7 linked regions of the Homo sapiens genome follow. The protein of the gene in region 5 purifies or fractionates together with the protein of the main gene of each other region. This does not show direct contact. Each region holds a gene or a part of one and is shown on either strand. Other genes may lie near its edges. The genes, in order: BMAL1, PKN3, GLMN, VPS50, GRIPAP1, LARP1 and EIPR1.

What was found.
Region 1: the proteins of GRIPAP1 (region 5) and BMAL1 purify together in Homo sapiens (affinity purification with mass spectrometry, with the first as the bait; one large-scale study listed by BioGRID). This does not show direct contact.
Region 2: the proteins of GRIPAP1 (region 5) and PKN3 purify together in Homo sapiens (affinity purification with mass spectrometry, with the first as the bait; one large-scale study listed by BioGRID). This does not show direct contact.
Region 3: the proteins of GRIPAP1 (region 5) and GLMN fractionate together in Homo sapiens (co-fractionation; one large-scale study listed by BioGRID). This does not show direct contact.
Region 4: the proteins of GRIPAP1 (region 5) and VPS50 purify together in Homo sapiens (affinity purification with mass spectrometry, with the first as the bait; one large-scale study listed by BioGRID). This does not show direct contact.
Region 6: the proteins of GRIPAP1 (region 5) and LARP1 fractionate together in Homo sapiens (co-fractionation; one large-scale study listed by BioGRID). This does not show direct contact.
Region 7: the proteins of GRIPAP1 (region 5) and EIPR1 purify together in Homo sapiens (affinity purification with mass spectrometry, with the first as the bait; one large-scale study listed by BioGRID). This does not show direct contact.

The regions. Positions count from the first base shown.
Region 1 is NC_000011.10:13,378,790-13,382,289, forward strand, and holds part of BMAL1 (basic helix-loop-helix ARNT-like protein 1), read left to right. Parts: intron 1-2,371; coding exon 2,372-2,465; intron 2,466-3,500. UniProt on the Homo sapiens protein: Transcriptional activator which forms a core component of the circadian clock.
Region 2 is NC_000009.12:128,712,503-128,716,002, reverse strand, and holds part of PKN3 (serine/threonine-protein kinase N3), read right to left. Parts: intron 2,952-3,500; coding exon 2,805-2,951; intron 2,726-2,804; coding exon 2,616-2,725; intron 2,505-2,615; coding exon 2,361-2,504; intron 1,958-2,360; coding exon 1,882-1,957; intron 1,807-1,881; coding exon 1,638-1,806; intron 1,442-1,637; coding exon 1,339-1,441; intron 1,206-1,338; coding exon 1,138-1,205; intron 832-1,137; coding exon 768-831; intron 635-767; coding exon 543-634; intron 1-542.
Region 3 is NC_000001.11:92,267,988-92,271,487, reverse strand, and holds part of GLMN (glomulin), read left to right. Parts: coding exon 1-23; intron 24-1,711; coding exon 1,712-1,765; intron 1,766-3,352; coding exon 3,353-3,383; intron 3,384-3,485; coding exon 3,486-3,500.
Region 4 is NC_000007.14:93,305,366-93,308,865, reverse strand, and holds part of VPS50 (syndetin), read right to left. Parts: intron 3,039-3,500; coding exon 2,862-3,038; intron 43-2,861; coding exon 1-42.
Region 5 is NC_000023.11:48,978,265-48,981,764, forward strand, and holds part of GRIPAP1 (GRIP1-associated protein 1), read right to left. Parts: intron 3,428-3,500; coding exon 3,332-3,427; intron 3,209-3,331; coding exon 3,152-3,208; intron 3,051-3,151; coding exon 2,951-3,050; intron 172-2,950; coding exon 41-171; intron 1-40. UniProt on the Homo sapiens protein: Regulates the endosomal recycling back to the neuronal plasma membrane, possibly by connecting early and late recycling endosomal domains and promoting segregation of recycling endosomes from early endosomal membranes.
Region 6 is NC_000005.10:154,803,877-154,807,376, reverse strand, and holds part of LARP1 (la-related protein 1), read right to left. Parts: intron 3,177-3,500; coding exon 3,070-3,176; intron 1,497-3,069; coding exon 1,345-1,496; intron 1-1,344. UniProt on the Homo sapiens protein: RNA-binding protein that regulates the translation of specific target mRNA species downstream of the mTORC1 complex, in function of growth signals and nutrient availability.
Region 7 is NC_000002.12:3,259,319-3,262,818, forward strand, and holds part of EIPR1 (EARP and GARP complex-interacting protein 1), read right to left. Parts: intron 1-3,500. UniProt on the Homo sapiens protein: Acts as a component of endosomal retrieval machinery that is involved in protein transport from early endosomes to either recycling endosomes or the trans-Golgi network.

The sequences.
Region 1 (3,500 bases), on a different chromosome or scaffold from region 5:
GGAGCTTCTCAGTGCGGATAGATGTACCTTTACTTTACAGGAATGCAGGAGTAGAGCTGTGAACTATCAGAGTGATCTGGACCTTAACAAAACATTCACTTTTTTTCAATCAAAGAGCTGCCCAGGATTAGTACTAGAAACCAAGCAGATCAGCTAGTTATTACTAGCTGTCTTGGGAGAGACTTCCTTTCCATATGAAAGAGAAGGAGCTTAGAAGCAGTCCACCTGGGTCTGAGTCCTGGGCCTGTCTCTCTACCTGGCTATGCTGAGACTTACTTAACCTCTTGCTCTCTGTTGATTTAAACCATAAAAAGAAAGCACTATTTCCCAAGAATTGTGTTAGGATTGTGAGGGCACTCAGGAAAGTTCCAGGAACACAGCCTGACATATAGTGAGTGCTTAAAAATTAATTAAATCTGTCTTTAAGAGCAGTCGAGAGGGAAGCAGTTATCATAAGTCTGTCCAAATTTGGGGAATAGAGAAGGTGGTAACCAGATTCTTCAGAACGAAACTTAATGTAACATAAGAAAAGGAAGAAAACACTGCTGCCGCTGGATTCTCTCAGGAGAATTAGAGGCTGGCCTGTTTTCCAATTGGCCATAAAGGGGCTGTTATCCCCCTATAGGTAACACAGCTCTTTTCCAACCCCACAGGATTAGTGGGTGTGACTTCTGCATCAGGAAGGAGACATGAGGGTAGTGTGCAGTGTAATCAGGTTCAAACCCTATACTTTGCATTTGCATACCCTGTATTTTGCTTGAGACCATCCAAGAACAGTATCAAACAGTCCTTGACCTCAAGAATTTTAAAATCTTTTATAAGTCTATTTTCTTTATGATAACAGGAAAAAGGGAGGGTGCATGGGCCAAAGCAAGCAAAAGAGGAAAGATTTGAACTTGGCCTTAGCCAGGGTTTGCAATAAGAGTGGATGTTCCCTCTAGAAAAGCCAGGGCTATTCTTGAGTGGGCATGTGAGTGGCAAATTCAGGGTCAAGAAACAAGCTACCTAACTGGGCAGGCTTTGTGTAGGAAGGAGACACAGAGCTATGATAGGCGATTAAGAAACACAAGAAATGATACTGTGCAGTTTGGAAGAAACCTGTAAGACCCCATTTGTTGTAGGATGCTGAACAAGCATCCAAAGTCTTGTGTTACGCTTTGTGGAAGTTGCATTGGAATAGGGAGAGATGAAGGTGGGCATGTTTGACAACTCAGGAATGAGGCCTTATCCTACAGAGATGACACTGCCAAAAGAGAAATCAATCATCTAAGGTCTAGCGTTTGAAGATGAAATCAGGAATGATGAAACAGCAATTCCAAGATGAGAAACCTGGGAAAATAGTGGTTTCATAGACATAAGTAGAGAAAGGTGGGGGACACTCAGCAATTTTTCCGTAAGCAATTAGCAGCCGTTTGTGCATGCTGAGAATACATGATATGTAGTTGTAAACTGCCGTTAAGAAGCTTCTAATCCAGAAAGAAAACTTGTTCACTCATAAATCTAGAGAACTAGGCAGTACAAGAACCAAAAGACTTCTGGGTGGTGGAGGAGTGGTCTCTGGGTCACCCAAAAGCTACATTCATCCATGTAGGAGCTGAGAGTCCTGTGGTTACACAACTGCCATCACACTCTCCCTAAACTGTAGCTGCAATGCCAAGTGATGGATTCTTTCCTGAGGTCCTTCAGCCTGACAAGTATTTAGGTGGATTTACAGTTCTAAGTCTTCCCTTCTATAAATCTTCTGAGAGATATGCTAGATAAGAAAGGCCTGGACCCATTTTTCATCAACCACTGCCTTCGAAGGCTGCTTTTCCTGTCACTACTACTAGGCTACCTTTTAGACCCTGGTGCCGTCCATGTCCTAAGAGTATTCACTAGCTAAACAGTGTTTGTGGAGAAGGGGACAAATTGTTTTCTGTGGATCAAAGATGGAGGTTGATCTTAGAAGTTCTCCTCCAATTCACCTGGATTCTGTGAGGAAATAAAACTGGCCACTTACTTGAAATTCACCAACTGAATGCAAACTCCAATCCAAGGGCTTTGTCAGTGAGATGCTTGACTCTAGGGACTGCATTCTAGATCAGGTGCCTGTAGAACAAATCCAGCTTGTCATCTGTTTTTGTAAATAAAGTTTTATTGGAACACAGCCACACCGATTCGTATCTGTGGCTGCTTTCAAGCTGCAGAGGCAGAGTTGAGCATTTGTGACAAGACACCATATGGCCTAGAGAGCCTACTATCTGGCCCCTTACAGAAAAAGCTTGCCAAACCCTAATCTAGATCTTCATCCCCTTTCTCACCTTTACCCCTTAACAAAGCACATACACTCCACTGAAAAAAGAAAAGGCAGTGTAATTCTCTTTTCTGACAGGATAAGAGGGTCATCGCCTTCTAGCTGTGGCTCCAGCCCATTGAACATCACGAGTACGCCTCCCCCTGATGCCTCTTCTCCAGGAGGCAAGAAGGTAAGACTGATGATTCTTAGCCTAAGCTAGAGAACCTCTTGCCCAAGATCTGAAATGTTGGGGGTGGGAGTATGGAATTGCAACTGCGATTGCTGAAACAATTTGGACTACTTCCTCCTTGAAGTAAATGCATCTGTGTGAGGCTGGATACAAAGCATACTGGTAGGGCTAGGGAGGCTTGCTGACATCCTCAGAGGCTTTCTTCCATGTGAGTGGAAGAAGGGAGAAAGAATAAGGAATGGGGAACTGTCAGTTCATTTAATTGAGGGAGCAATTCAAGAGTTCCCATGAGGGAAAGATTATTGAGTACCTCACATAGAAAAGTTTCTCATTTTCTGCCAGGAATTTTCAAGGGAGAAAATATTAGTGTCTAGGGCAGGCAATGGAAACAGCAATGCCACCAGCAGTGCTTTGGAAATCAAGCCATGCTTTATAGCTGCAGAATACTTGGGGATCTGCTGCCTGGGGGTTCCATTGGTGTGACAGCATTGGATCCAAGCAGTGGATCAATCACCAGCCCTCATGAAGAGCTTGCTATAAGACTACACTATAAATAGGTTTAGGAACCAGTCATTTGTTTTCATCTTTGCTGGAGAACTTATAAGCCTAGGCCCATCTTAATCGTAAATTATAAATCTGTTTATATTGCCTGATGCCAGTAGAGCTTAGGACAGTTTAAAGGCCATCATTTTGGACACAATGGCTTCCTTTCCCCATCTCCTAAAACAGAGAGAGAGAATATCAGGAATTTCCATAGGCAGGACTCCTAGGGCACAAACCATCAAAAGCAGGGCAAGGATTTTCAAAACTGAGCTCCTCGGAGGTTTGTTCAGGTTACCAAGAGCTGTGGTGTTACCAGGTGGGATGGGCGTGGGGATAGTTGCTAAGGAGAGAGGGTAAGAGTAGAAATCCTGCTTCTACAAGGGCAGCAATACTTCTTTTTTATACAGGAATCTTCTGCAAACATTTCTATTTGAAAAAGCGTTTTGCTCCCCCCAAAAAAGGTTGAAAGTTAACAAATTAATGGGTAAGACT
Region 2 (3,500 bases), on a different chromosome or scaffold from region 5:
AATTAGTTTTTTTAGATGAGGTCTCATTCTGTTGCCCAGGCTGGAGATCTCTGCTAACTATAACCTCTACCTCCTGGGCTTAAGCAATCCTCTCACCTCACCCTCCCAAGTAGCTGGGACTAAAGGCACATGCCACCATGTCTGGCTATTTTTTATAGATGGGGTTTCACCATGTGATTCAGATTGGTCTTGAACTCCTGGACTCAAGTGATCCGCCTGCCTTGGCCTCCCAAAGTGCTGGGGTTACATGCATGAGTTACCACGCCTGGCCATAGAGTGATGGTTTCTATATGTCAGGGGCTCACAAGGAGCTCTGAACGTGCACAGCCACCAATGCCCCCATTTTACAGTAGAGCAAACTGACAGAGAGAAGAGGGGACCTGCCCAAGGAAACACAGTTAACAACTGCAGGTGCCAAAAGAGAATGCAGGCTGGCTGGCCCCACGGGGTCACCTCTCCAAAGCCCCAGGAACCTTCAACTGCCCTCTGGATGCCACAGCCCAGGCCAGCCATCCTGGGTGCCCTGCGGCACCCCCACACACCTCTCTATCTCGTCCCGGCTGAGCACCTCCTGCTTCTTCAGTGCTTTGATGGCGTAGTATTTCCCTGTCCCCTTGAACTGGACCAGGAGGACCTGGGGCCAGAGAGAGGTTGTGCTCCAGGTGGGCCAGACCAGGGAGCCTTTACCGCCCCCACAGATCAGGTCCTCCCGGCTCATGTGATGAGGCCCCCAATCCCGTCCCATACCACCCTCTTCAGCCCACTACCTTCCCAAAGTGTCCCCGGCCCAGCACAGCTAAGCAGCGGAAGTCCTGAAGCCGAGGGGGTTTCCTGCAAAGGAAGAGAGGGTATATGAAGTCCCCTAGGGCACTGGCTGGGCCCCTACCCAGAGCCACTCCAAGCCTCCCATGCCCAGTCCTGGGCTGTCCCGACCTATGGGCTCGAAAAAGCCCTGCAGTAAGGACTCCTAGAAGCCGGCATAGAGCTGGAGCTCAATAATGTGGGTTTAGTAAATCAGACCCCGAGAGCCAGTCAGCGCACCCGCCAGGGAGCCAGGGAGTAATGTATGAATGGATACACAAATGTTCAAGCAAGCAGACGAACGTCTCAAACATGAAGGTGCGCAGGATGGGGTACCTGGTGGGGGAGGCTGGTGGAGATGGCCCACGTCGAGTCCTAGGCTCCATATGGGGACGTTTGGTGCGCTGTGAGTATAGAGGAGCTCAGGGCAGGGCTGGGCTTCCTTCTCTCTTTCCCTTCAGGCCTGCCACCCCACAGCTGGGTGGCCCTGCCAGCCCCAGCCGGCCCTAGGAGCCACTAGTCCCTCCAGCCCCTCACCGGAGTCTCCTCGGATGTTGGCTCCTGGGGGAGGTAGAGGCGTGGGGGCTTGGGTGGGGGTGTCATCTCTTCACCCAAGGGGGTCTTCTTGGGCAGGAAATTACTGTAGGGAGAAAGTAGACACAGTGCCCAGCACAGGCAGACGCAAGAGCTGGCAGGATGGACACACCAACCCAAAGTGAGATGGACAGAGGGTTAGCGGGCTGAGCAATGCAGACAGACAGACAGATACCGCCTGGATCTGGAGTCAGGAAGCCGCCACAGAGGAGCATGCAGTCTAGGGCAAGGGAGCTCCTCACCTGGGAGTGGCAGGGTCAGAGGCCTCTCGCAGTGTTGTTGGGGTCCGAGGGCATCCTTTAGGGGGGCTGATTGTGCTCGGGGAGCTGCAGGGGGGCAGCAGGTTCATGACGAGGCGCCCCCAGGCCGCCATGCCGAGGTTCATCTGCGAAGCCCTCAGGAAGTCCTGGCCTGGGAGAAAAGGGGGAGCTTAGTCCCGGGACCCCAGCCCTGCTCCCTCACACATAGCCCCCATTCCCTCCACACCTCTGCGTTTAGAGAAGATGCGTTCCTGCCTCTGCAGCCGGGGCCGCCTCTCAATGACAGGATCGCAGAAGGTCACCTGCAGGGGTAGGGGCAGGGTTGTGGACCAGTCGCCTCCCATCTCATCTGCCATGGCACCTCCTCTGCCCCTGGGATTACAGCCCAAGCCCCCAGGGTCAACAGATGCAAGAGCCAGAAAGACCCAGAGAAACAGATTCAATGTCCTCATTGATACTAGTGGAGAAACAGAGGCCCAGGGAGGAGAGGCACTTTTCCAGGGTCACACCTGAGGCAGGGCAGTCAGGACAAGGACCCAGGCCTCCAGATGCAGCCCTGAGAGAGCGGCTAGGAGCCCTTATTCCTGGAGCCCTCCTCTCTGGTCGTCAGTCTCTGCACCTACACGCAGTGCATCGGTCTTGAAGGCCTTCCTGGCCCTGACGCCCCAGGGTCCCACCAAGTCAGAGGGCGGAGGTGGTGAGCACCTGGGCAAAAAGCAGTCCCTGCGGTACCAGGCTGAGGGACAGTTGGTGACAGGCATTGTCCAGGAAGTCCTCAAGTCTCAGGAAGGCCACGCCACATAGCTGCCGCCAGTCCCGCCAGTGTACCCCAATCTCCAGCTCACGGGCCTGTATTGGGGAGGCCAGGCTGAAGGGTGGGGTGCAGAACGAGCCCCGACCTGGGCAGCCTTCCACCCCGCAGCCCAAGGTCACCCCTGACCACACAAAGGCCAGCCTTACTCGCTCCAGTGGGATGACAAAGGTCTGGTCCCAGGACTGTTCGGCCACCTGCCCCCAGCCCGTCTGCCCCACAACACGGTTGTCCACCTTTAGCACAGCCAGCACCTCGCCTGCAGGGCCAGAGCCGGGACTCAGGGCAGGCCTGAAGCAGGGGTCTCCTGCTCCCCCTGAAGCTCCTTCCCTACTCACTGGCAAGCTCGCCTCGGCCACGCTGGTGCTTGGCCTTGGTCCGAAGCCAGCCCTCGGAGGGGCTGCTGGCCAGTGCGGCCGCTGGGGAGCGCCCAGGCACGGCTGTCAGCAACTGTTCACAGCCCAGGAGGCGGACCTGCAGTGTCCCTGTGGGGAGAGTGAGCGGGGGGCGTTGTCAGATGCCATCTTCCCACTGCTACCACCAAGGTGTCCTGGGACCCCAGGAAGGCCACCCTCTCCAGGAGGTGGCTGAACCCAGACCGTACCCACCTGAGGCCAGGGCAGTTACCTGAGGAACCTCACTCAGTGTGGCGGCCTAGAGTGCCTAGACTGGAGCCTGCTGACTGTCCTGCAGCTCCCAAGCACCATGAGCCCCCCAAAGGGTACCCTTGGACCCCGATGACACCCTAGGAGGCCTCCGACCTGGACACTCCCAGGTGAGGAGCCACGTTGTCCCAGAATGCACACTTCTCTGTGGCAGCCACCTCTTTCCAGGGCAGAGCAACTGGCTCTCCCCTCCACATGCTGGAGCGGCAGGGACATAGGCTCAGACCTCAGACCTTAGCCAGGCTGCACAGAGCCACAGCACATGACGAGATGCTGCCTAGAAGTGGGGCCTAGAGAGCACTGTGGCAAGGATAAGAGCTTGGGACAGGGAGCAGGAAGCCTGGCTTCCTGTCCGGACCCACCTGCTCC
Region 3 (3,500 bases), on a different chromosome or scaffold from region 5:
GATCAGCTTCCAATGGTCTTAAGGTAAGAGTTAGTGTTTGGTTTATTCATGTATTCTAAAAGGAATTTCATAAAATTCTCATTTATCTAATGTCCAATATATGCATATTAACACACTAATACATTTTAAATAAATAGTAAAGGCTATTTTTAATAAGAATGATCCCAGCTATAATCTGTTAAAGATAGCAGTAGACAAGTAATGAAAGTGGGGAGTGTTGAAATAGGTGTAAGGGAATGGTGGGGACAAGAATCAGAAGATGATAAACAGGGCTTGGTTTTGAAGCTTTTGAGACCACCCTGGAACTAGCCAGGTACCCAGGGGTATCATCATCTTTTCACTGGATTACTGCTGTAATCCTGAGTGGATTTATATATCTACTTTTACTTCCTTTTAATTTAACACATTCTCAACATACCAGAAAGCGAAGCCTTAAAAGAAGTCCCTTACTGAAAACCCTCCAGTGGCTTTTTATTGCTTTAAGAATAAAGTCTTAATGCCTTTGCATAACTTCTGAGACAAACTTGTGCCTGGTCTGGTCCCTGCTTAATTGACCTGATTCATCTCCTACCACCTTTCCTCTTGTTTACTATGCTCCAGTGACACAGACCTTCTTTTGTTTCTAGTTTAAATGTTATGAATTTTCCTATTTGGCCTTTGTATATGCTTAAAATTCTCTTTATCCTTAAATGTCACTTTCTGAAGAAAGCCTTCACTCACCACCCAATTTAGGTTGAATCCTTCTATTATAATTACCTTGACCTTGTCTTCTTTTCCCACAATGTTTATTAAAATTATTTTTAAAATATATAATTTTATAATGTAATATCTTCTGGACTTTGAGTTCTATGATAATAAGGATTGTGTATTTGTCTTATAGGCATTGGGTATTTGTGTGAGTTTGTGCATTTATATATGAATATAGCTAGGAGTACATTCGTATGTAAATGTTGAAATACTGGCTATCATTTGCATGTTCACCATGTATGAAACATTATGCTAATAACTTTATATGCATTATCTCATCCTTATAATAAGCCTGTGAAATAGAGCATTCTCTCATTTTACAGATGAAAATAACAGGCTTAGACAAGTTAATATACCACTGAAGATCTAACTACTTTGTGGCATAGGTGGGATGCAGATAGCTCTGTCTGACCCCAGAGCCTATACTCTTAAGCATCACATTCTATCACCAAAATAACTTATACAGCATATGTATATTAACTTGCTAGGGCTCCTGTAAAAAAGTGCTACCAACTGGATGGTTGAAATAACAGAAATAGTTTGTCTCATAGTTCTGGATGCTCCTTCTGAGGGTTGTGAAGGAGAATCTTCTCCATGCCTCTCTCCTGGCTTCTGGTGATTTGCTCACAATCTTTGATGGTCTTTGGCTTGTAGATGCATTATCCTGTTCTCTGCCTTCATGTTCGTATGCTGTTCTCCCTGTGTGCTTGTGTCTGTCTCCAAACTTTCCTTTTACATAAGGACAACAGTCATATTGGATTAGGGCCCACCCTAATAATCTCATTTTAAATTGATTACCTCCATAACCCTATCTCCAAATAAGGTCAAATTCTGAGGTACTAGAGGTTAGGACTCCAACATATCTTTTTTGGGGGAGATACAATTCAACCCATAACAATATGTATGTGTGTACATATCTCTGTGTGTGTGTATAATATATATATTTGTTTTGTTTCTATTTTAGCCCATTGTACCTTTTGCAGTTTAATATGGGGCACATTGAAGTCTTTTTGCAAAGGTAAGATCGTTTAGATGGTATCTCAAAATGAAATAGTAGTGTTAAAATAGTCCTTGTTAAGATCAGCGGAGACTGCCTTTTCTTTGCTAAGCTCTAATTAATTAATTGGTTATTTTATAAAACAGCGAGGCAAATAATTCACGAGAGAGACAGAAATGAGTCAAGGAGGTTTTACACCAAAGTCTGTTTTATTTTAAACTTAAGACAGTATTAAGATTTTGTCTTAAGGGCTTTTACAGTCATCTGTTTCTAAGGTTTCTTCTCTTACTCCAAAAGTTGGTAAATTAAAACACCTCTACCCCACTGCATCCTCCTCCATCTTAAGGAAGGGCAGTCAATAAAAGAAGTTCTTCCGTATTTTTCCTTCATGGACACAGTCTGTGAATTGCATCAAAAGGAAGGAGGTGTCTTGACTTCCACCTTTTATAATTTAGATTATTGACAGTGATGTCATTCAATTACAACTTTTCTCATTTGAGGTGCTAAGCAGCAGGACTTTCTATTTAAAAAAAAAAAAAAAAAGCCAGGCACGGTGGCTCACGCCTATAATCCCAGCACTTTGGGAGACCAAGGCGAGAGGATTGCTTGACCCCAGGAGTTCGAAACCAGTCTCTCTCTCTACAAAAAATAGAAAAAATTAGCCAGGAGTGGTGGCGCCTGCCCGTTGTCCCAGCTACTTGGGAGGTTGAGGTGAAAGAATCACCTGTGCCTGGGAGGTCTGGGCTGCAGTGAGCAGAGATCATGCCACTGCAGTCCAGCCTGGGCAACAGAGTAAGACCCTGTCGCAAAAGAAAAAAAAAAAAAAAAGGAAATTACAGAGTAACAGGTATACATAATTTCTAGACAGAAATTAAAGAATTTCACAGAACTATATGCTTTGTTTTCTTTCACTATAACATGTAACATGTTTAAATTATCCCCTGAGATCAGTTAGGGCTTTGCAATTATCCTCTATGAACACTAGTGACAGTTTATCAGTCCCATCTCTTACCAGGTGAAGGAAGATTTGTAACATGGCAATGTCCAAAGCTTCAGCATACAAGGCAGGAATTTCCAAGGGTCTCCTGGCACAAGTAGTTACTAATTCTGTAAATTTGCTGTATTATGTATGTTTTAATGATTTTATATTCATTACATTTAGTTTCTGTTATTCATACAGTGATAATATGTATTGTTTTGAATCTAAGTCCTAAATTCTTGAGATTTCCAAACTGCAGAGTCATTGAGTCTTTTTTTGAATAAAAAGAATTGGAAAGATTTTACAGAATAATCAACTGGAATATATAGCATTGGTTATATCAGGTTTAGTTAGTTTCTTAGCACTTGCTGTTGAAGATCTATTGTTTTGAAGTTAGGAAATAATCCCTGAGTAGATTTATTTTGGTCAGATTTAGTGGCCTTAGCCAAACCGAAAGACAGATCAAAGATGGATTAAAACTTTTGATCAAGTTCTTCAACAGAATTTCTCCTTAATGATATGCATTTTAAAAGTGTTAAAATTTCAGTTTTTGCTGTATTTTTCATAAGATGAAGTATCATTCTAAAATAGTTTACAAATTCATGATAAATTTTAATATTATTTTTCAGAACAGAAGAGTCTGTTATCTCCAAAGGATTGGTAAGATGTTTGTTCCCATTATAACTTAAATACATAGTTATGTCAACAAATAACAGCTGTTGACTTCACTATATATGTATCTGCATATATTTTAATCTGTAGGAGCTGCTGGAGAAT
Region 4 (3,500 bases), on a different chromosome or scaffold from region 5:
ATACTCTTGATAGGCACTCTTTTCTTGTTCATCAGATTCATACTGAAGAAAACACAGGTTATTAAAAAATGAGTATAAAGGGCCTCTTTTCGTGGGGTGTCTCAACACAGTGAAAGTACTCAGTTTTATAAGAAACAGCTAAATACAAGAAAATTCTTAATTTAGCTTTAATGTTGTCACCAAGAATCTAATTATTCTTCCATTGTCTTCATCATTCTACCTCAATCAGCACAAAAGAAAAATATTACACCTATAAAAGCTTGAAAATGTGCAACAAAATCAAATCGCCATAAACCAAAACCTAACAAACATTCCACTAGGCCTAAAGAGTATACATTCGCATTTTTTTTTCTTAAAGTCTCTCAGAAGTTTCACCATACTTATTTCCAATTTGCTAATAAAACTCATTAAAAAGAGGTTCAGTATCCAATTCTGGCATTCTGGAAGTATTACTTCAGCTTAATAAACACATGCAACACACATGCTGATGTTCTAATTCACTATAAAATTTAATTCCGAGGGCAGCTTAGAAAATTAAGCTTAGAACACAGGGACCTGCTGAGAATGAGGACAAAAATGGTGGATTTACTCTTGAGACAAAGGGTGTCTTCCTAACATTTTCATCATCTTTATGGCACCATGGCCCAATGCCAGCATGGGAAAGACAGTGGAATTCATGCACACAGTAAAGGAAGCAGTGACAGCACTTTCATCATCATCATCATCATCATCATCATCATCATCATCTATTAATGTCATAGATTAATACGATTAAATGGCTAACATTAATATCATTAAGTAATAGCTAACACTGAGTTTTTAACCAAGTATTATGCTAAGTGCTTTCATGAATTATCTCATTTAATCATACAGACACTTCTATGAGGAAGTTTTATCTCCACATGACAGTTGAGGAAACCAGTATGATAACAACATGGAAAGAATTTAGCCCCCTAATTCAACAACTATTTTTTGAGAGTCTGTTAATAAAAAGCACTATGAAAGGTCGTATTTAAATGTGGACCCTGATTCTCAAGGACATAAGTTGCACCTGGAAAGATCAGATCACACATTAATAACTGCAAACAAGCCTTACAGGTACTCCTTTATACTTATACACAATGTGATCCTGATGCTATGCAGAAAGGTATTCTACATAAACTAGGATGTCCTGATTACAACAACAGAGGTTTGTGACCACACCGTATCATAGATACTCATTATTTGAGGATTCAATGTTTGCAAATTTGCCTACTCACTGAAATTTATTTGTAACCCTAAAGTCAATACTTCTGATATTTTTGGAGTCAGTCATAAACGTGCAGAACAGTGAAAACTTTGAGTCATCCAACATGCATGTTCCCAGCTGAATACAAACAAGGCATGCTCTGCCTTCTTGCTTAGGCTCTCATACTATAAACAAGTTTCCTTTTCTTGACCTATTTAGTGCCAAGTGCTTTGTATTTTTGTGCTTTTTGTTGGTGATTTAACTGTTTAGAATGCCACTGCAAGTGTTGCGTTGAAGTGCTGTCTAGTGTTTCTAAGTACAAGAAGGCTGTGATGTGCCTGAGAAACAAAATATGTGTGTCTGATAAGCTTCATTTAGGCAAGAGTTACAGCGTTGTTGGCTATGAATTCAGATTATGTACTGATGGGCTGATAAACATGTCGTAACCCGAGGCTCACAGGAACCTAATCCTATATTTGCTCTGGGAGTAATGGTTCAGTATTTGCTAATTTAGTATTCACAGCAACTTTATAGAACACACTGCTGCAAATAATGAGAATCAAATGCTATCTAAGTTTTAATTAATGAATCACTTTTATAGAGAGATATATTATTCCAAAATAATTGGAATGACTTTAAATTCCTCTCGGTTAAGCCAACTTCACAGAGGCAAAATGTCACAAAGAATCACTGAATCATAATTTTAAATATGGCTTACTATGAAACAATTTAAACTTAATGAATTTTGTCTTCACCAAATGAAAAATAAATTCTAAAACTAACATAAAATATAAAGACAAATCCTTCAACATATTTTGTCACATCTGAATGGTTTTCACTTTAGCTTCATCAAATCAAAAATAAAAATCATATTGGGTCATTATGGAAATTATGAAGATCAGAAGAAACCATCAAACAAAATATTAAGTCAAGTAAAATACTGTGAAAACACCATGCAGGAACTGTGAAGCAAGCATTCCTCTCCCTGTAAATATGGAGAAACTGAGGGTCACAAAGTTAAAATAATTTGCCAAGGGCCACACAGCTGATAAATAATAAAGATGATATTCATTATTTGCCTTCAAATCCTTTCCACTAACTCACACTACGTCTAGTTAATATTGTTTTTGAGGTCCTCAAAGTGTTGTTAAAACATTGTACTTCTAAATCTCAAAAAATATCCCTGCCAGGCAACTATGCAAGACATTACCACTTTCTCTTAGATAAAGGGACATGGAACAAAATGAATCAGTGACCCATAAAGGGTGTCGAGAAAAAGGGTAGATGATATCTATTCCGTCATCTCACAATATATCACATAATATTCACATAATATATCACGTAAATATTCAGTGAAGAAATTACACTACTACTTGATTAGCAACCTGATAAGAACATCATGTAATAAGAACATAAAGCAAACATAAAGGGAAAATTTACTATTCAAGAGGACAAGGTCAACAAAGCATATTGTAAAGTCATCATCTATAAATGTAATAGCATAGGTACATTAAGTATACAGGCAGGCAGGGTGGTAGTAAATGGATACGTAAATGTAGTGAATTGCCTTGTTCATTGAGTAGAACAGTTTTAAATAAAAAAAACTCACTTATGTTTCACATACACCACATACCCCATTAGAAGCTAAGACATCTTCTGTTTCTTCATCTTTGTGGTTGGCCTGAATTTCAAATGGATTCCCACCACTACAGTACTGCTCAAACAAGGTCACTGTTTTTGAAGAAGTTGAGACTGGCTGTTTACTAGGTGAAACTGATGGGGAGCGAGACTGTTCCATGAATTTAAATTCCTAGATGTTAAAAAAGGAGCCAGATACCCTTTAGCAACAATAAAATTCTAGTACATAAACCGAATCCCTCAATATACATGTAGAGTTAGTAGAAAAACAACATCTTGATCTTCAGTTTATTGACTTTTAAATCTTTCAAGTTATCTAAAAGCACAAACTTGGAAATACACATCTAAAGGTTTTCCTAAAGACAACTCAGTGAATGGTATCACTTAAAACAGTATCATCTGCATCAAGCTACTTTTGGCTTCCTTTAAGAAACTGCAGAGATCATTTTTTAAAATAGCTTAAGAAATCTGAATGATGTCTTCTAAAAATTTTAACAGAACAGCAAAAATCCTAATCAATAAAGTCATTTATGAAAACTAATTGTTAAACACTTCTCTTTTTCATATGCTTGCACCACTTAAGATATTCTGTACAAATACATCAGAAATAAAGTATGAAGTACATATCTGTGTT
Region 5 (3,500 bases):
TGAGAGAAGCTGGAGCTGTAGGTTCTTCCTTTCCCCTTACCCTGGCTGGAACAGCCGAGCTCTCCTTTTCCCGCAAGATCTCCCGGTAGCTGAAGGAGGAGATGCTACTGCTGTCCCCTGTCTGGGTCCGGCTTGGTGAGTTCATCTCTGAGAGAACCAGCTCCTCAAGGCCTGGGTGGTGGAGGGAAGAGAAACTTGAGCCCCAATACCCCTGAGTCCCAGGGCAGCAACCAGCAGGAAGAGGCAGAAATAGATTTAACAGAGATGGAAAGAGAGACACCTGGGCATGGGGAAAGGCAGAAGCAGACAGGAGGACAGGGAGAGACAGAGACAGAAAAAAGAGCTGAGGCTGGGCGCACTGGCTCACACCTGTAATCCCAGCACTTTGGGAGGCTGAGGTGGGCTGATCACTTGATGTCAGGAGTTCGAGAACAGCCTGGCCAACATGAAGAAACCCCGTCTCTACTAAAAATACAAAAATTAGCCAGGTGTGGTTGTGTGTGCCTGTAATTCCAGCGATTCAGGAGGCTGAGGCAGGAGAATCGCTTGAACCCAAGGAGGCGGAGGTTACAGTGAGCCGAAATCGCACCATTGCACTCCAGCCTGGGTGACAGAGTGAGACTCTTGTCTCAAAAAAAAAAAAAAAAAAAACAGAAAGAAAAGAAAGAGCTGCCTTTCTGGAGAAACACATACAAAATGAGAGGGAGAAAATGGAAGAGGTTGGAGAAAGAGAACGACATGGGTACACATGGGTCTCAAGTGGCAGACACACTTGGACACAGGGTTCAGAGAAAGGAAGACAGCTAGAGAGGGCACAGGGCACATCCACTTGCAGAAAGAAAATGCCAGAGATGGAAAGCCAGAGCAGATGATAGAAACTGAGACCCTGGTGAAAGAAGTGAGCCAGAGCAGAGACAGAGAGAAAAAAAGATGCCGGGCGCGGTGGCTCACGCCTGTAATCCCAGCACTTTGGGAGGCCGAGGCGGGCAGATCACGAGGTCAGGAGATCGAGACCATCCTGGCTAAAACGGTGAAACCCCGTCTCTACTAAAAATACAAAAAATTAGGTGGGCGTGGTGGCGGGTGCCTGTAGTCCCAGCTACTTGGGAGGCTGAGGCAGGAGAATGGTGTGAACCCGGGAGGCGGAGGTTGCAGTGAGCCGAGATCGCGCCACTGCACTCCAGCCTGGGCGACAGAGCGAGACTCCGTCTAACAAAAAAAAAAAAAAAAAAAAAAAAGAAATGCAAGCAGGCTCTCGTACCCACGCACCTAAATCTCAGTTTAATCTAATGGACAAGGTGAATGTATTGAATGTATGGTATACGATTGTAACGTTTCCCAAGATTATTATTATTATTATTTTTTAGACAGAGTTTCAGTCTTGTCGCCCAGGCTGGAGTACAATGGCGCAATCTCGGCTCACTGCAACCCCTGCCTCCTGGGTTCAGGCAATTCTCCTGACTCAGCCTCCCGAAGTAGCTGGGATTACAGGCGCCCGCCACCACACCCAGCTAATTTTTTGTATTTTCAGTTGAGACGGGGTTTCACCGTGTTGGCCAGGCTGGTCTTGAACCCCTGACCTCAGGTGATCCACCCACCTTGGCCTCCCAAAGTGCTGGGATTACACCTTTCCCAAGATTCTTACATTCATCTGTGATAAAACAGAAACAAAACTCCTTTTTAAAGAAAGGTTACTTCAGGAGACCGAGTGCCTCAGAGAGAAATTGATTTGGTGAGAGATACACATCTGTTTTGCCACATCACTTAAAGCCCTCGAGGATCTCTGGCAAGGGTGGGGTGACTGAGTGGGGATCCGTAGGTATCCCGAGTGGGGGAATAAGGGACCAAGTTTTCTCTGAGTCTGTAATCTAAGAGATGCACCAGAGCCATCACTGCATTTTACTTACTTAAATGTATTTATAGGCCATCCCCGTCTTAAAAAAGGCTGAAGCAACTAAAGTTGTGTGTGTGTGTGTGTGTGTGTGTGTGTGTGTGTGTGTGTCTTCTGCTTGAAGTGGCAGAAATAACAGATTGGATTAGCTGTATAATGAAAACACCACAGCGTTGCTGACTATGTATAAGTCTGTCTCCGTAGCTCAACTGGGGGCTTCTAGAGGGCAGAGACTCAGGGAGTTTTATATCAGGGACCCTGTACTTGAGCAGGGAGATTTATAGAATGAGAGATTGTATACAATAGATTTAGAAATGCCAAGTGAGGTGTGGGAGTGTGTAATGTAGTACATACAGTGAGGAGACAGACAGAGATATAAACAGAAGAGACGAAGAGGACACAGAGTGGCGGGAAGAGATAAAGGGACAGAGAAAAGAAAGGGCGGGGGCCGGGCCCAGTGGCTCATGCCTATAATCCCAACACTTTGGGAGGCTGAGGCGGGCGGATCACCTGAGGTCGGGAGTTCGGGACCAGCCTGACCAACATGGAGAAACCCCGTCTCTACTAAAAATACAAAATTAGCTGGGCGTGGTGGTGCATGCCTGTAATCCCAGCTACTCAGGAGGCTGAGGCAGGAGAATTGCTTGAATCCAGGAGGCAGAGGTTGCGGTGAGCCGAGATCACACCATTGCACTCCAGCCTGGGCAACAAGAGCGAAACTCTGTCTCAAAAAAAAAAAAAGAGAGAGAAAAGGAGAAAACTAGAGAAAGAAAGCAAGGAGATAAAGGCAAACATAGAGGAAAGAGAGAGAACAAACTGAGACAGAGGCAGAGACAGAAACAGAGAAGAGACAGGGCAAAAACGAGAGAAAGATAGAAATAAAGAGAGAATGCAGAGAAAGAATCAGAGGAGAGACAGAGAAAAGGTAAAAGATGGAGTTCCAGAGCGACAGAAGCAGGAAAGCACAGCTGAGGAAGATGCAGGACTAACCTGCAGCCTGCAGGCCCAGGCCCTACCTCCCCCATGCCTCAGCCTCCTCTCCCTGTCCTAGTCCCTCACCTGAGCGGCTCTTGCTGTTAGTGAGGATGTCCTGCAGTCGCTCCTGCAGCTTATCTGCCCGTTTCCGCTCCAAATGCAGCTGCCGCTTGAGGTCCTTGAGCTGTGGGGGACAGGGGTAACATGAGGACTGAGGCCCAGTGGGCCCATAGGAGGGAGGCTACAGGTAGGAGGGAGCCGTGCTTGGGCACCGCTCTGTCTTACCGCAGCACTGCCCTTCTTCTCCAGGATCCTCTGCCCATCCACTGTGTCCTTCACCTCCTGTGGGAGAAAGCAGGCATGGCTGGTAGATGCCGGAAGGGCTGCCTGAAGCATGCTCCCTCCCTGCCCCTCCTGTACGCTGAGGATCAGGGGTGTGTCTGGGGCTGTGCAGTGACCACTGACCTGCTTCAGGCTGCTAATGGTCTTCAGGTGGCAGTCCCGCTCCTCCTGGGCCTGCTCGAGCTGATCCCGTACATCCTGTAGCTCCTCCTCCTTGCCCTGCAAAGCAGAAAGCAGCTTAGGCATTGGCTTGGGAAGCCTCTGTCCTCCCAGGAGGGCCCGTCACTGTCTG
Region 6 (3,500 bases), on a different chromosome or scaffold from region 5:
TTACCCCATGACCCAGCAATACTACTCTTCTAACCAAAATAAAGGAGAAACTACGTCTACAGGAAACCTGTATGTGAATATGCCCAGTAGCATCATTCACAATAGACAAAAAGTAGAAACAACCCAAATGCCAATCAACTGATGAATGGATACACAAAATGTGATACATCCATACGATGGAATATGATTTGGCAATAAAAAGAATAAAGTACTGATGCATGCTATGACATGAACCTTGCTGTGTATTTGTTAGTATACCAAATATACTAAGGGGAAGAGGCCAGTAACAAAGGACCACATACAGTATAATTTATGTGAAATGTCCAGAATAGGCAAAATCCTTAGAGGCAGAAAGTAGGTTAGTAGTTTCATAGGGCTGGGAGGATTCTGGGGGTGGGGAGTAGTTTGCATGTATAATGAGTATGACTGGTAAGGGGCATAGCATTTTGGGGGTAATGAAAATGTTCTAAAATTGATTCTGGTGATGGGCACACAACTATATGAGTACACTTAGAGCTATTACATTGTATTCTTTAGGTATGTTCCATCATATGTAGATTATATCCCAATAAAGCTGTTATTACACATAGAGTAAGAAAGAGAGAAGTGAAGTGGATGAATCAAGAATTTAGCAACCACGTTTTGTTGAATGAAAGAGGATGAATGAGTTAATAACTACAGGTGACTAGATTGGTTTTGCGCGTCTTTACAGCCAACCTATCAGAATACTAAAAGAGCAGGGACAGACAAGAGCATCTAGACAGGCTCGTTCCTTACACTATCATCTAGAGAGGGGATCAGCAAACTACTTTTGTAAAGGGACAGAGAACAAATATTTCAGGCTTTACAGAAGACATATAGTCTCTGTCACAAATCTTTTTTTCTTACAACCCCTTAAAAATGTAAAAACTGTCCTTAGCTCCAAAGCCATACGAAAACAGAATACTGGCTGGATTTGACTCACAGGCCAGTTTGGCAACCTTTGTTCTAGAGAGCATATGTCACCTCTTACATACCCTTTTGTGATGGACAGTGGACTAGACCTGACAATGGCTGAGTCAGTAATCTTGCCAGAGATATGGAAATACTTAATTGACAGCTTTAATAATCAATAGAGGAAGATCAAAGAACACGAACGTTGTGAGTGCCATATCCCCCTAGCTTCCTACAGTTTAAAACTACCTGGCCCGAGTCTAACTTCAGTCTTTCTTGCTATAATGTCATGTCTTTTTTTTGCTCTGAAGTCAGAGAAAAGAGTCACCTATCCCCGTATCCCCCAACTCTTATACTCTGGGTCTAAATAACGGGCCCAGAGGCTCATCTCCTGCCCCCCACACTTCTTACCATTAAGGCAGCGCCTACGATACTTATGGTAGACGTGTTGTGTGAAGCCATTTTCCTTGAGCAGTTCATGGGAAGGATGCTGGAACTTGGGCAATGACTGAGGGGTACAGCCATAGCTGCCAACTGTAGGCGTCCCTTCTGAGGGGCTGGAGCTACAGAAACCACAAAAAATACTGTCACCAGGTTCCCCACAGCAGCCCCACCATGTCAGGAGGGGTCCCTCTGATCCGTTCTGTCAGCCAAGATCCATCCTCTCACAGGGTATCAAACAAGGAGGCCCAGTTACGGACCTTTAACTTATATCCATGGGTCTGATTAACTCTGCATCAACTCTCAGAGAGTTTTACAGAGGATACTGAGGCTTACAGAGATTAGGAGACTCATCCAGGGTCATAAGACTATTTAATGGCAGAAACGTGTCCAATGATAAAACTTGAGCTTTTAACCATTTATTAACTTTAAGCATTTAACCTTTTAATGAGCCATCATGGGTCAATCCATCTACAGTGAACCCTTGAACAACATGGGTTTGAAATGCATGGATCCACGCGTGGGTCCACTTATACGCAGATTTCTTCCACCTTTGCCACTCTTGAGACAGCAAGACCAACCCCTCCTTCTCAGCCTGCTCAATGTGAAGACCATGAGGATGAGGACCTTTATGATGATTCCCCTTTGCCACTCGAGAGAGCAAGACCAACCCCTCCTTCTCAGCCTGCTAAACATGAAGACCACGACGATGAAGACCTTTATGATGATTCTACTTCCACTTACTGAACAGTAAATATTTTCTCTTATGATTTTAACTTTTATTTTAGGTTCAGAGGTATGTGTACAGGTTTGTTAAGTAGGTAAACTGTACCTCACTCTCCTCCCTCTCCCCACCAAGTAGGCCCCAGTGTTTGTTGTTCCCTTCTTTGTGATTTTCTTAGTAATATTTTTTATTTAGCTTATTGTAAGAATACAGTATGTAATACATATAATATGCAAAACATGTGCTAATTGACTATATGTTATTGGTAAGGCTTCTGGTTAACAGTAGGCTTTTGGAGAGTCAAAAGTTATACACGGATTTTCAACTGTGTGCAGCTGGGCACCCCACGCCCTTCGTTGTTCAAAGATCAATTGTATATTTTCTTCAAAAGCATGCCTATTTGCAGTCTGTGCCATCTCTGCAGGGAGTAGAGAGCATTGGTCATAGGTAGGTGGCTCTCAAAGCTTGCTTTGGGAAACAGGAAACACACACTGGGGCCATCTTACTGAAATAAATAAAAAAGAGTGTGGGCCCTACCCCAAGAAGCAGGGTCAGCAGATACAGGTTGGGGCCAATAAATATGTATTTTTTTAATTTTTAAAACTTTTCAAGTAGCCTCCCAAGACATAGTAGGCTCAGAGAGACTGCCAGAAATCTGTTTATTCAACTACCTGGCTATTCTTCCTCAGACAGAAAGTAGATAGCCAGGCTTGGAAACCAATTCAGAGATTTTCTCTCTGCATGTATGAAAATCTGGTCTCACGTGACTGCCACACCACTTCTTTAGGAAAAAAGCCTACCCGTCATTCCCAGGTCCTGGGCTGAGCTTTCCACACCACTGGTTTTTTGAAAACCTCTTAGATGAGGGTCCCTTTAATTTTCAGACCAATCTTCTTGGTCCAGTCAATTTCATGGCTCGCCCACCCATCCCATAGGCAGCCTGATCACTCTTCCCCCACTGCCCCAGGTACCTGATGGAAGCAGTACGGGGCCTGTGCTCACGGGAATCCATCACCCAGCCCACATGGCTCTCCAAGGGTGGGTTTGAACTGTGTCTTGTCTTTCTTTTTCGAGGCATCTGCAAAGGTTAGCCCAGGGTTTGTTACTGTTTGTACTCCTACAACTCTGAGGAGCATCAAGCACTTGTAGGACTAAGATGGGCATGATCTCTCACATTTTACAACAGCATTTTCATATTCATTCTCGTATAAAGTTCACAGTGGTGAGCTAGGAACTGGTATGCCTATTTCAAACAGGTGAAGAAATCAAGGTTTGGGAATGCAGTGATTTGCCCAAGGACTCATACCTGGTCAATCCTCCTTAGGCCTTTCAACATGGGGTTACCACTCCCACACCCAGTATATTTTGCAGATGTGGCTACCTAATCCTAGGTAAGCCCACC
Region 7 (3,500 bases), on a different chromosome or scaffold from region 5:
GGAGAATTCTGTTCAGGTGTAAAGAAAGTGACTTTCCTGTAAACGCCAGCTCACCAAACTCCTTAACTATATCCACGTTGCCCTCAATAAAGCAAAAGTGGTACAGGTGAAGTAAGATTTTCCACTCTCAGGTAAGCTACCTCCCTTCAAAGTCTACACCAGATACAATGTTTAAGTGACCAGCTGGACAATGAAGTTTCCACGTATCCGGTTCATGTAGCGCTATTCACCTCTCTCCCCACAGTCCATCAACTTCACAGAGTAGAGAAGGCAATGGAGGAACCTCCAAGAAAATATAGATAAGAGAATCTACACTCACTTCAACTTTTACTCCATTCTGAAACCCTTCTAATGTTGTAACAAAGAGGGGTTTTTCTTTCTATTTTCTTTTAAAAACATAAACCCACAAGGATAGAAGAGCAATGAAGTTTTGGAAGCTGGAAAGAAACAGACCCTTAGAAAGATGGTCACTTGTTTTACTACAAAAATAACACTCAAGAGTGGAGAAAGGATGGTCTTTTCAATAAATGATGCTGGATCAATTGTATATCCATATGAAAGAAAATAAACTTGTATCCTACCTCATAACATACTCAAAAACCAATTCCAGCTAGACTGATGATAAAGACGTAAAGATAAAATAATACAAATCTTTTCAAGAATACATAGTAGAATATCTTCTCAGCCTTGGGACAAGCAAAGATTCCTTAAATGGCAGGAAAAAAAGCTGGATCATACAGAAAAAGACGAATAACATAGAATCTATTAAAATTAAGAACTTCTATTCACCAAAAGACCCTATTAATTGGACTTCATTAAAATTTAAAACTTCTTTAAAATCAAAATGAAAAACTCTGCTTTCAGAAAGACACTATTAAAGAAATGAAGCAGTGGCCGGGCATGGTGGCTCACGCCTGTAATCCCAGCACTTTGGGAGGCCAAGGCAGGCGGATCATGAGGTCAGGAGTTTGAGAGCAGCCTGGCCAACATGGTGAAACCCCGTCTCTACTAAACATATAAAAATTAGCTGGGCATGGTGGTGGGCGCCTATAATCCCAGCTACTTGGGAGGCTGAGGCAAGAGAATTGCTTGAATCTGGGGGGTGGAGGTTGCAGTGAGCTAAGATTGTGCCACTGCACTACAACCTGGGCAACACAGCGAGACTCCATCTCAAAAAATGAAGGAAGGAAGGGAGGGAGGGAGGGAGGGAGGGAGGGAGGGAAGGAGGGAAGGAAAGAAAGGAAAGAAAGAAAACAAAAGAAAAGAAAAGACAGACTGGGGGAGATATTTATAATACATATATCTGACAAAAGGCCTGTATCCAGAATAAATATAAAGACCTCCCACAGCTTAATAATGAAACAACCCAATTTTTTTAAATGTACCTTACGCCAAATCAGACACTTCACAAAAGAAAACATATGAATGGTCAACAAGCACCAGAAAAGATGCTCAACATTATTAATAATTGGAAGGAGGCAAAGTGAAACCATGTGAGACTCACCACACATCTTACTAGAGTGGTGAAATTTTCATTTAAAAAAGACCAACAATAGCAAGTATTGGCAAAGATGTACAGTAACTGGATCTCTCACGGATTGTGAAAAAAGAGTGTAAAACAGTACACACATTTTGGAAAACACTTTTGCAGTTGAACATTCACTTACCAGATGACCCAATAATTCCACTCTTAGAAGAAGCTGTCACAAAGCTTGGCTTGTTGATAATAAGCTTTGTCCAGCTTTCTGACTTGGGCAGTTAAACCCAGCCCCAAGTAAATGTGGTCGGGTGACGGTATGTAACTGCCAGAAGTCAGGGGGTGGCAATTATCATAATGACCAACGAGACCAGAGTGCCGGCCAAGGAAGCTCAACTGGCAGAGGGCTGTGGAGACAGTTAATAGAGTTGGTATTCCTAGGGGTGAAACAGACAAGGCATTCAAGGAGAGTACTGCCTGCCTGACACATGCACACATGAGTGCAAACGTACATAACGTACATACATATTAAAAAGAAAACAAGAATGAATGAGCAGAAGGCTGAGGGAAGTCACCCCACTCACAGTCACAATCCCTTACCCAGATCCAGATTTGAGGCAGCTTCAGAGCTGGAACCCACTGACGGTAAAGATGGTCAGATTCCCCACGGGTTAGGAACCTGCAACCCTAGGGCAGGTGTACACTGCAATGATTACCCTAGTCTGTACCCAAAGGGACCCACGGCCATTTTCCTGAATGCCATTCCCTGGGCAAAGGGTAATCCCCACACATTTCCAGGTCTGCTGAACACAAAGACACGCACAGGGGTCCAGCAACCCAGTGTCCCACTGTCCTCCGGCCCGAGTGGGGCATGGGGATGCCAGGTGATAAGTAAAGTCCTAGGCAGGGCCTGGCTTACCGCAGATCCTCTGAGTCTGTGGGCGCACCTGGTGGGCAACTCCAAGGTCTGTTAAGGTCAAATGGGATTGACATCCTGGGCAGTTTGTGAAATACCCATACCGGGCCTGTGACCTGTGGAGTTAATGGGAAGGTCACATAGAAGCCTCTGAAACTGCCTCCCCGTCCCAACCCATCAAAGAGTGGTAGAGACCTGCGCTTACTTTAAGAATCAAGGATATGAAGTGGGTGTGGCTTTGCTGAATTCACCATTGGCTTCTGCAGAAAGCTAATGGGCCCTGGAGAATGCCTGTGGATGACTCTAAGCTCAACAAAGCAGGAGCCCACTCAGATCCACAGTGCCAGCTGTGGAGTCTTGTTAGAGCAGATTCCCAGGCCCTCAGGCACATGATGTGTGTACACAGACCGTCAAATGCACGCTGTCCTATCCCAATGAAGAAAGAAGATGAGAAACCATCCGCATTCACAAGCAAAGGAAAACAGTATACACTCTTGCCACAGAGCTGTGCTGGTCTCCCATTTTCTATCATAATATAGTCCAAACAGACCTGGGCAGCCCACAGAACATCACATGGACCCACTGCATTCATGACATTACAGTGACAACGTAGGAGGAGCGTGCAGAAGACCTTGGCAAGACGGCAGGAAACACAAGCTATGGCAATTCCAGGACCTGCTACTTCTGCTGAGGACACCAGGACTTCCCCTCCAGAGCAAAAGCAGAAAAGACGCTGTAATGCCTGCCAGCCCTCTTCATTCTAGAGGTGACACATTATACACCTAGGAAGGCTGGACCAGCCCAGATGCTGGGGTAGCACGTAAGGCTGCCAGCTTAGGCCAAGAGGGCACTACAGCAAGATCAGGCTGGGGAGAGGCAGCCCTGCTTCTGGGGACGCCTAGTAGACCTGCTGGTGTGGAAGTTGTCAGTGGTAGAAAGCATGCAGTGTGGACTTTGTGGAGAGCCCGGTTGGAGTCACCACGTGGTCCCGGGGTTCTGGAGCAAGCCATGCCATCTGCAGCACAGAACCATGTCTTTTGATAAACAGCTCTGACCATGCCTCTGGGTCCTGATAATGGAGCTCCTGGCCATGGGGCACCAAGTGCC